Homo sapiens: one gene and its partner. The protein of the gene in region 1 interacts with the protein of each later gene in a biochemical or structural test. Each region holds a gene or a part of one and is shown on either strand. Other genes may lie near its edges.

What was found.
Region 2: the proteins of ALG2 (region 1) and SHISA5 form a complex in vitro, tested with the Homo sapiens proteins (one study listed by BioGRID).

The regions. Positions count from the first base shown.
Region 1 is NC_000009.12:99,215,742-99,219,048, reverse strand, and holds the end of ALG2 (alpha-1,3/1,6-mannosyltransferase ALG2), read left to right. Parts: intron 1-212; coding exon 213-1,115; 3' UTR 1,116-2,624; downstream 2,625-3,307. UniProt on the Homo sapiens protein: Mannosyltransferase that operates in the biosynthetic pathway of dolichol-linked oligosaccharides, the glycan precursors employed in protein asparagine (N)-glycosylation.
Region 2 is NC_000003.12:48,501,001-48,509,039, reverse strand, and holds the start of SHISA5 (protein shisa-5 isoform a precursor), read left to right. Parts: upstream 1-4,865; 5' UTR 4,866-4,945; coding exon 4,946-5,021; exon of another isoform or gene 5,022-5,319; intron 5,320-5,846; exon of another isoform or gene 5,847-5,945; intron 5,946-7,746; coding exon 7,747-7,903; intron 7,904-8,039. UniProt on the Homo sapiens protein: Can induce apoptosis in a caspase-dependent manner and plays a role in p53/TP53-dependent apoptosis.

The DNA of each region.
Region 1 (3,307 bases):
GCTTTAAATGTTTAGCACACATCTAGCAAACGTCTGTAGCCTTCTGTACACCAGGCATATGGTACTGGGTGAGAGTCTTGGGGAATAAAACAGAATCAGACATTGCCCATGAGGAGCCCACAGACTAGCCAGACGGGGTGGGTGTCTGTGTTTTTGGTTTGGTTGAAGTTGAGTTGACCACTTTATCCGCTGTTGATTTTTGCTTTGGCTAGGTGTCTGCCTGTATCCCAGTGTTCAGGCTGGCTAGACGGCGGAAGAAGATCCTATTTTACTGTCACTTCCCAGATCTGCTTCTCACCAAGAGAGATTCTTTTCTTAAACGACTATACAGGGCCCCAATTGACTGGATAGAGGAATACACCACAGGCATGGCAGACTGCATCTTAGTCAACAGCCAGTTCACAGCTGCTGTTTTTAAGGAAACATTCAAGTCCCTGTCTCACATAGACCCTGATGTCCTCTATCCATCTCTAAATGTCACCAGCTTTGACTCAGTTGTTCCTGAAAAGCTGGATGACCTAGTCCCCAAGGGGAAAAAATTCCTGCTGCTCTCCATCAACAGATACGAAAGGAAGAAAAATCTGACTTTGGCACTGGAAGCCCTAGTACAGCTGCGTGGAAGATTGACATCCCAAGATTGGGAGAGGGTTCATCTGATCGTGGCAGGTGGTTATGACGAGAGAGTCCTGGAGAATGTGGAACATTATCAGGAATTGAAGAAAATGGTCCAACAGTCCGACCTTGGCCAGTATGTGACCTTCTTGAGGTCTTTCTCAGACAAACAGAAAATCTCCCTCCTCCACAGCTGCACGTGTGTGCTTTACACACCAAGCAATGAGCACTTTGGCATTGTCCCTCTGGAAGCCATGTACATGCAGTGCCCAGTCATTGCTGTTAATTCGGGTGGACCCTTGGAGTCCATTGACCACAGTGTCACAGGGTTTCTGTGTGAGCCTGACCCGGTGCACTTCTCAGAAGCAATAGAAAAGTTCATCCGTGAACCTTCCTTAAAAGCCACCATGGGCCTGGCTGGAAGAGCCAGAGTGAAGGAAAAATTTTCCCCTGAAGCATTTACAGAACAGCTCTACCGATATGTTACCAAACTGCTGGTATAATCAGATTGTTTTTAAGATCTCCATTAATGTCATTTTTATGGATTGTAGACCCAGTTTTGAAACCAAAAAAGAAACCTAGAATCTAATGCAGAAGAGATCTTTTAAAAAATAAACTTGAGTCTTGAATGTGAGCCACTTTCCTATATACCACACCTCCCTGTCCACTTTTCAGAAAAACCATGTCTTTTATGCTATAATCATTCCAAATTTTGCCAGTGTTAAGTTACAAATGTGGTGTCATTCCATGTTCAGCAGAGTATTTTAATTATATTTTCTCGGGATTATTGCTCTTCTGTCTATAAATTTTGAATGATACTGTGCCTTAATTGGTTTTCATAGTTTAAGTGTGTATCATTATCAAAGTTGATTAATTTGGCTTCATAGTATAATGAGAGCAGGGCTATTGTAGTTCCCAGATTCAATCCACCGAAGTGTTCACTGTCATCTGTTAGGGAATTTTTGTTTGTCCTGTCTTTGCCTGGATCCATAGCGAGAGTGCTCTGTATTTTTTTTAAGATAATTTGTATTTTTGCACACTGAGATATAATAAAAGGTGTTTATCATAAAAAAGAAACAGTATTAGATTTTGGTCTCCATAATCTATTTTGGTATTGTTACGAACATGGATATGACAACCAAACTGGAAATCAGAACACTAGGGTAAAGTGGATATTGAAATGAAGCAAGAATATTGTCACACATGTGTTGTGCATCTTGTTTAGGGTATATTTCTTAATGTCATCTAGGTCATTAGTTTTGTTAATATTTGTGTTGTCTTGACCAAGCTCCTACTAAGTATAGGACACAAATGTTTTTTATCTTCCAAGGCCTGGCTCAAATGCCACTGCTGCAAAGCTTTCTTTGACCCTCTGGCCACCTCCCAAGCCAGAAGTTATCTTCCCCCTCCATGTACTCTAGCCTTTTCATGACACTGATATTTTCGTGACACTGACTTATAGTTCACTGTTTACCTGTTGGTCTAACAGCAAATCATAAACAGTAGTTTTCAACATACTTCTAAGGCTAAATTCATTTCCAGAAGTAGCAAAGCTTACTAGCCAAAGGCTCCACATTTATCAACTCTTAAGAGCTAGACTTGAGAGCCTAACAGCCTATATGATTTTGTGTAAATTGATCTCTATACCTCAGCTTCTTCATCTGCAAAGTGAGATAATTGTACTATTCTACTTTCCTCATAGTGCGGTTATAACAGATTATGATAATATTACAAAGTACTTAATACTTGGCATATAGTATATATATTAGCTATTAGTATTTTGCAATTTGGGGATATTGAAAATTAGAAATTGCATGTTAGTTCATGCTGCACTACCATATTGTTCTTTTGGGGCTCTTCAATGGGTGAAATTCCATTTTACAGTTTATCATGTGCATCTGTATCACAGGAGTATTTTGGCAAAATGATTCTGTACCAAAAAGGAGTACTATAAAATGAGGGTGCCAAATATATTGAGTCTTTTATGGGATTAAAAGTTCTGTTGCATTCCATTTTCTTTGGCATTGTGAAAGCTTACCATGTAGTACAGAAGGTATGATTTGGTTCATGTGTTTCTGAGAAATGCAGCCTTTCCAGGAAGCCTGGTGGCTCTTACCATGGAGTTTAGCACAGATAGACTTGGCCACACTGTGACCTACAACATGGTGCTTACCTTACTAAGCAGCACTAAACATTTGCATATTTGACCATTTTTATGCAAATCCTTTCAAATGGACTACATGGGTTCATGGACCCTGATTTTAGCTTCACTTCATTGTCCTAAGCCGGAGTGAGTGACAATAAGATTTCACAGGTCTGGGAGGGATGGAGTCCTGCCTGCCATGAGCTTCCAGCTTCTGACCATTAGTTCCTGGTTCCTGGACCCTAGAATGGAACTTTGCCCTTAAGAAGTGTTCACACCTTCCAAAACTAAGCTGAAGTTAGGGAAAGTAGAAGCATGAAACATTGAAGGTGAATTGTTGGGGCCTTATCCATAGTAATTCTGGTAATTACTTTGTGCAGGGCAGGAAAGGAGATACATACATAGCAGATGCTTAATCCTCAACAATTCACTGAGATGTAGGTATTCTTCCCTTTTAGATGAATGTAGTTAAGCAAGTTGCCTGCGTCCCATGGCCTTGAAGAATGGACAGAATCTCAAGGCCCTCTGATTCCAAAGTCCAACCACTTTACT
Region 2 (8,039 bases), on another chromosome or scaffold:
GCAGATGACAAGTCGGACACCCCCATTTCCCTGGGCATCTGCTACCATTCCTGATGGGGACTAATTTTTTAAAAAAAATTATTTATTTTTTATTTCTCTCTTTCTCTCTGTCTCCCCTTTTTTTATTTTTTTATTTTTTGACAGAGTCTTACTCTGTTACCCAGGCTGGAGTGCAGTGGCACGATCTTGGCTCACTGCAACCTCCACCTCCCAGATTCAGGTGATTCTCATGCCTCAGCCTCCCCAGTAGCTGGGATTACAGGCATGCACCACCACACCCAGCTAATTTTTGTATTTTTAGTAGAGACGGGGTTTCGCCATGTTGGCTAGACTGGTCTGGAACTCCTGACCTCAAGTGATCTGTCCGTTTCAGCCCCCCAAAGTGCTGGGATTACAGGCGTGAGTCACAACGCCCAGCCTAGTTTTCTCTTTTTTTTTTTTTTTTTTTGAAGCAGTCTCGCTCTGTTACCCAGGCTGGAGTGCAGTGGTGCGATCTCGGCTCACTGCAACCTCCGCCTCCTTGGTTCAAGTGATTCTCCCACCTCAGCCTCCTGAGCAGCTGGGATTATAGGTGCACGCCACCACGCCTGGCTAATTTTTTTTGTATGTTTAGTAGAGATGGAGTTTCGCCATGTTGGCCAGGCTAGTCTTGAACTCCTGACCTCAGGTTATCCACCCGCCTCGGCCTCCCAAAGTGCTGGGATTACAGGCTTGAGCCACCTTGTCCAGATGTTTTCTTTTTTTTTTTAGGTTTTTTTTTTTTGAGACAGAGTCTTGCTCTGTTGCCCAGTCTGGAGTGCAGTAGTGCAATCTTAGCTCACTGTAACCTCTGCCTCCTGGGCTCAAGCAATCCTCCCTTGTAGCTGGGAATACAGGCACGCATCACCATGCCCAGCTAATTTTTGTATTTTTTGTAGAGACGGGGTTTTGTCATGTTGCCCAGGCTAGTCTCAAACTCCGCGCTCAAGAGGTATCTGCCTACCTCTGCCTCCCAAAGTGCTGGTATTACAGGCATGAGTCACCACGGTGCCCGGCCCTGGTGAGAACTTCTCTGTCAGTTGGAGGAAACTGACTCTGCCCAACTTAATCAGAAACCCAATTTATGAAAAGCAACTGTGGAGCCCTCAGAGCCAACAAGGCGGCTGGAAAGAAAGGTTCCAAGTCGAAGCAGTATCGTCTCCAGCCCAAACCACAGTGCTACTTTGGCCTGGTGAGCATGCCACTGCTCCTGCCACGAGGGGGAAGCAGGGGCCTTTGTGACTCACACAGCCCTCCCCACAGGTGCAGACTCATGTTTCTGCCAGGACTGCTGCAGCCCTCCATCAAAGCTGGTGGCCAGTACCCCTGACTGACTCCAGGGAGGCTACATCTGATTGGTTGGGGCTGGGCAAAAGCTCTTGCCCTGGGGCAAAGGAATCTGAAAAAGATAATATCTAGCGTGTTCCTCCTCTGATGTGGAGGAAAGGGGACCAGGTGCTGAATGAAGAAGAATGGCAAGGATCCTTGAGCAAGCGTTCCACTGTAGAACTCACCGATCTGGTCCTGCAGTCAGTCCTGGGGCTGGGCTGATGGCCTCATTCTCACCTGGTTACTCTCACCCTGGGCTTTACAAGCATCAGTGGGTGTTGCTTTGCTCCACCAGCCTGATGCAGAGTTCTCACCTACAAACTGTAACCAAGGTCCCAGCAGAACACAGTCATTCTTAACAAACTGGGTATTTGAGGAGAGTTTGATAAAAGTGCTGTTGCACTTTGGGAGGCTGAGGCGGGCAGATTGCTTGAGCCCAGGAGTTCGAGACCAGCCTGGGAAACATGGCAAAAACCCTACTTCTACAAAAAATACAAAAATTAGCTGGGCGTGGTGGTGTGCATCTGTGGTCCCAGTTACTCCAAAGGTTGAGGTGGGAGGATCACCCCAGTTTCCTGGGGAAATTGGGGCCGCAGTGAGCCGTGACTGCACTCCAGCCTGGGTGACAGTGAGACCTTGTCTCAAAAAAAAAAAAAAAAATTGCTGTTTACAGAGCTGTAGGAAGGTTTGGGGAGCCACCTAGCTTTGGTACAGCATCTGGGCCAAGTCCTAGCCTTGGTACAGCATCTGGGCCAAGTTTGGTTTCTGCCTTGGAGGGGTCACTTTCCCCAGGCAACTTGTATTTCCAGGCTTTGCAAGCCTGAGCTGCAGAGACAAAACTCCTCAGACACCGAGTTAAAGAAGGAAGGGGTTTATTTGGCCGGGGGCATCGGCAAGACTCCTGTCTCAAGAGCAGAGTCCCCCGAGTGAGCAATTCCTGTCCCTTTTAAGAGGGTGCTCGTGAGAGGGTCGTGATCGATTGAGCAAGCAGGGGGTACGTGACTGGGGGCTGCATGCACCAGTAATTAGGTCAGAACAAAACAGGATAGGGATTTTCACAGTGCTTTTCTATACAATGTCTGTAATCTATAGATAACATAACTGATTAGGTCAGGGGTCGATCTTTAACTACCAGACCCAGGGTGTGGCGCCGGGCTGTCTGCTTGTGGATTTCATTTCTGCCTTTTAGTTTTTACTTTTTCTTTCTTTGGAGGCAGAAATGGGGCATAAGACAATATGAGGGGTGGTCTCCTCCCTTAGACCCACAGAAAATGCCTGCACACATGGGCACATGCCTGTGAGATGCATGGTTGCGATTTCCAAGCCACTGGGGTGATCCTAGCCTCCACTCACTCCTGCCCATGCACAGCCCTGGGTGGAGCCCAAAACACCCACCAAGCTCAACCATGAGCTGTGGGCAGATAAGAGGGTATGGGAGAGCCAAAGACCAAAAAAGTAGGGAGGAAGAGGCCAGGTGAGAGGCCCCTAAAGGATCTGGGGTTGGGGGCAGCAGAGTAGAGAAGCCAAAGGCAAGCATAGGAGGTGGGAAAGGACAATTCTTTTTTTTTTCATTTTTTTTTTTCGAGATGGAGTCTTGCTCTGTCACCCAGGTTGGAGTGCAATGGCGCGATCTTGGCTCACCACAACCTCTGCCTCCCGAGTTCAAGCGATTCTCCTGCCTCAGCCTCCTGAGTGGCTGGTATTACAGGCATGCACCACCACACCTGGCTAATTTTGTATTTTTAGTAGAGACGGGGCTCTACTGAACATGGAGATGTTGGTCCATGTCTATCCAACATGGAGATGTTGGTCAGGCTGGTCTCAAACTCCCAACCTCAGGTGATCTGCCTGCCTCTGCCTCCCAAAGTGCTGGGATTACAGGTGTGAGCCACTGCACCAGGCCTTGTTTTTCTATTTTTGAGACAGGGTCTTGCTCTGTTGCCCAGACTGGAGTGCAGTGGCACAATCATAACTGCAACCTTCATCTCCTGGGCTCAAATGATCCTCCCACCTCAGCCTCCCAAGTAGCTGAGACCACAGGTGCTTGCTACCATACCCAGCTAATTTTAAAATTTTCTGTAGATATGGGGTCTCCTTATGTTGCCCAGGCTTAGAACAACTCTTAGGAGCTTGGCTGGGGGGCAGGGACTGGAAAACCAAGGAACAAGAAACCAAGCTTGTGGATGGTGCAGAGTGGAATGAGCAACCTTTAGGGAGGCAGAGGGCTGGGCACCCAGGGTGTGGAACACAGGATGGCTCTAGAGCTGGACATGAGGAGCATACACTGGCCATTCTGCAGAAGGGGGACCTAGGCTGCACCCAGCTTTGGAGAGTGGCGCTCAGGAGGCAGAGGTGGGATAACCAGGCTGGGCTGTCAGGGAGGATGTGACTCCAGTCCCTCACTAAGACCCTCCCAGAGGGCATCCTGCCTGGGAACTGTCATATCCCTGCCCCCCACATGTGTATTGAGCACGGTGAGTCTTAAGCCCTTCTTGGCCAGGAGGTGATGGGGGCTTATTGGAGACCCAGGCCTTCCTCTCCCTGTTCTAACACCCTAGCCTGGGAAACTACTGGGAACATCCCAGATTGTCCCCTTGGGTTTCTCTTTGTCCACAGCGATGCCCCCACCTTTAGGTGAGAAATATATGGTGGCACACAGGGTGCACAACCCAGCCTGGGTGCCCCACTAGTGTGACATTTCACGTTTTCTGTCTTGAGTGAAATGTTCTGATTGTGCTAGGTGCAGAGTGGGGGTGGGTCAGGAACTCTGGGCATAAAAGGAAGAATGACTCAACATCCCTGATTCTGCCTGGACCCCTGCCCCGAAGTGAGGGGGCGGAGCCCTGTGTGGGAAGTTGGCCTGGCTGTGTGCCCTGGGAGCTGCCAGTTTCTAGCTCAGTCCTGGCCCACTGCGCCAGCGCTGAGCCTGCCAGGGCTGGGGCTGGGGATCACCTTGGGATGATGGTGTCAGTCCCAGGGGGCAGGAGATCGAGTGTCCTCTGAGCTGGCGACTGGGCCTGTAGAAGGGAACCGGCATTTGTGGAGTGTCTACTGAGTGCCAAGGTCTGCGCTGGGCACTGTCCTCGCACCGCCTCACCTAGTCCTCACGTAGCCCTCGGGCAAGTGAGGATCCGCCGGGACTGCGGCTGGGAGGGATGGCTGTGGCTGTCCCCCAGCCCACACAGTAGGCGCTCAGTGTCAGGGTGCATATTCCCGGGGACGCCCTCCAGGCCTGAGAGCTGGGGGCCGCCGCCGCCCCCCATGCATCCGGTGAGCAGAAGGAAACTCCGTGCGTCGCCCGGCGCCTGTCCGAGTCTGGGAACCGGTACCAAGTTTTCGCGCAGACCCCGGGCGCGAAGCTGGCCCCGAGGCTGGGAAGTCGTCCGCTTCCTTCCTTCCTCCTCCTTCCACCTTCCTCCCTCCTCCCTCCTCCCTCCTCCTCCCTCCTCCTCCTCCTGCTCCCCCGGACAGAGGTTCCGGGAACCAGCCGGGCCGGGGCGGGGCGGGGCGAGGGAGAGGGGCGGCCGCGCGGATCACTGAGGCTGTGGCGGCACTGCGCCCGGCGCTCGCGTCCGTCCGCCCGTCCGCCCGCCCAGCCATGACTGCGCCGGTCCCCGCGCCGCGGATCCTGTTGCCGTTGCTGTTGCTGCTGCTGCTAACGCCGCCTCCGGGTGGTGAGCCGGGGGTGGGGGCGGCCCGTCCTGCCCTGGGACCGGGCAGACACTTCCCCGCGCTGCCTCTCCAACGAGCCGGGCAGCACCAGCCCCACTATGCCCCCCACTGACCCCTGATTGCCCCGAGGCCGTCAGCGAACCCCCACGACTGCGGACCCCTCCTCCACCCCAGCACCCTCCTTGCCTGAACAACCCTGCCTAGACACCAGGCAGCTGCCACCTTTGTCTGTCCTGGAACGGTGGGGAGGGGTCTGCCCTCCCGCCCATGTTCCAGGGGATGGAGTCCCCAGAGGCTAGGGTAGGGTTCCCTGCCTGGCTTTAGTCTGGCGGGTGGCTGCAGGGCGAGCTGGCCCCTCCATCAGAGGCCTTCCCTCTTTGCCTCTGTTTAATGTCTGGGAGCCCCCACCGCTGCCTCCGTTGGCCCTTGTGTTCCTGTAGAGCCCGGCGCTGAGGCTGGCCTCTGGGGTGGAGACACCACTGTGTGTGTTGGTTGCAGATAGGTGATTCACAGAGTCTGGAAGGCTGGCTGGGGGCGGGTCCTTTAAAGGGTTAGGAATTGGAACAATCCCCTGCCCACCCATGGGAAGCCAAAGACCCTTTTGGGGTGGGTGGCTTCGTGGAGGGGAAGGCTGTATTTCCTGGGGGCTGGGATGAATCCAGAGGACCTGGGCTAGAGAAATGAGAAAGGGGAGACTTGTGCCCAGAATCCGCCCACTCCTGGAGTGAGCCTGTAGGAGGGTCGGTCACTGATTCAGTGAGGTCTGGGGGTCAGAGAGCATTTGTGCCATGGACTCAGCCTAAACAGCCTCACCGGTGTGTCTTCAGCCCTAGCTCAGAGGCTCAGATTGGGCTGTGAAGACCTTGCTGCATATGGGTTCACCTGAGCCACCAGGCACGGGCCATGCTGATGATACCAGCTTTCAGGTGGGCAGCTGGCCAAACTGGGCTTGTCAATGGTCCAATCCTCTGCTCCATGGCTTTGCCCAGAGCAGGGTTCTGCCTGGAGCTGCCAAGAAGTGCAGTTCCCCCCAACTCCCCACTAAAGTTCCCTCTTCCCAAGGAGGTCACTTGGTGTCTCTGTCTCTGGGCTTCACTCTACTGACAGCCTCGGGGTGTGTGGTGTCCTGATCAGGCCCGGGCACCAGATGCTGCACATGGCCAGGTGCCTGGCCTGGCTGGGTCTCCAGAGGCCACGTGCTATGGCAGACTGTTTCCAGGCCGATGTAGTTATGCCTCAGGGCTATCATCAGACCTGTCCCCTGCCTACTGCGGACTTGTGGGCCTTGCTGGACTAGGTATTCTCTTTGGAGTCTGCCCTGGCAGAATCCGGTACTGTTCCTTCCTGTTAGTGGGCACAGGTCTCTGCTAATGTAGCCTGAGGATACATGGGAACATTTGACTGTAGCATCTTCCTGGAGGTTTGTAAACCTTGTGGTCATCCAAAAACCTGGGTTATTTTCCACATTTGTTGTCAGCCAGATCCCCTCAGCATGACCTCGTTTATTGAGACTTGTAAGGATGTCAGTAGATCCCAACTCTGTGCTGAGAGTCTTGTGATGGCTCCAGGGCTACAGATGGTGCCACTGCCTTGGAGCCCTGTTGCCCAGGCTGGTCTCAAACTCCTGGAAGGCACAGACATTTCCTGGACACCTGCTGCAGGCCCAGCGCGGGGCTAAGTGCTTTATGAACGCTGGTATGGTGGGTGTGACAATTTCTGACCAGGATCTAGCCTGCCATCATGGTTATGGGGTGGTCTGTGAGAGCCAGGCCCCTGCAGTTGTGGTGCCCAGCAGGGGCTGAGGTTGCTGTGGTTGAGTGAGGGAGAGAGTGAACGAGGATTAAGAACTAGACAGTCTGGCTGGGGTGCGGTGGCTCATGCCTGTAATTTCAGCACTTTGGAGGCCAAGATGGGTGGATCACCTGAGGTCAGGAGTTCAAGACCAGCCTGGCCAACATGGCGAAACTCTGTCTGTACTAAAAAATACAAAAAATTAGCTGGGCCTGGTGGCAGGCACCTGTAATCCCAGCTACTCGGGAAGCTGAGGCAGGAAAATTGCTTGGATCTGGGAGGCAGAGATTGCAGTGAGCTGAGATCGCACCACTGCACTCCAGCCTGGGCAACAGAGTGAGACTCTGTCTCAAAAAAAAAAAAAAAAAAGAAAGAAAGGGACAGTCCAGTGTCTGGTCCCCTGCAGGTGTTGAGCTGTGTGACTTCTCGCCTGGGCAGCTTCTGGAGGAGGCCACCTGGAGTAGGGCCTTGAAGGATGAGTAGAGTTGAAAGGCAGGAGATAGGAACCAGGCAAGAATGTGAGCGGAGTGTGGACAGGTTGGAGAGCTGGAGTGATCTTCAGGACTCTGCAGTTTAGACCCTGCTTGGAAACTCGGGCCTTGATCCTGAAGCAGTGGGAATTAGGGGAGGTTTGAGAGCAGGGTGTGGCCCCATCAGACTCACATTGAGAAAGTTCACCCTCCTATCAGGAGGCCAGTGCACTGGTGAGGGAGAGAGGGAGCCCAGTTAGGGCAGCTCTGTTGTGGCCCGTGGGATAGGGCAAGGCTGAGGGGGAGCAGTGGCCAGGGGTCAGAAGGTGGCCTGTGGCTAGGGTGGCTCAGAGACGGTGCAGCATGTGTGTGTGTGTGTGGTCTGGTGGCTGTGCCAGGGAGGGCGCTGTGTCTGCTGGGGCCTGGCCCGTGGGCACAGGTGAACAGATGTGTTTCTCCTCTCCAGCACGTGGTGAGGTGTGTATGGCTTCCCGTGGACTCAGCCTCTTCCCCGAGTCCTGTCCAGATTTCTGCTGTGGTACCTGTGATGACCAATACTGCTGCTCTGACGTGCTGAAGAAATTTGTGTGGAGCGAGGAAAGGTGTGCTGTGCCTGAGGCCAGGTGGGTGCACCAGTGGGTCACAGGGTGGGTGGCTTGAGCCTGTGCCCCACAGGAGAGTATGTGGAAGAGAGATAGCTCTGCCCCTCTGGCCTCTCAGCCCTCTCAAGATGGTGGCCAGAGCATTGGAGCAGAGGGT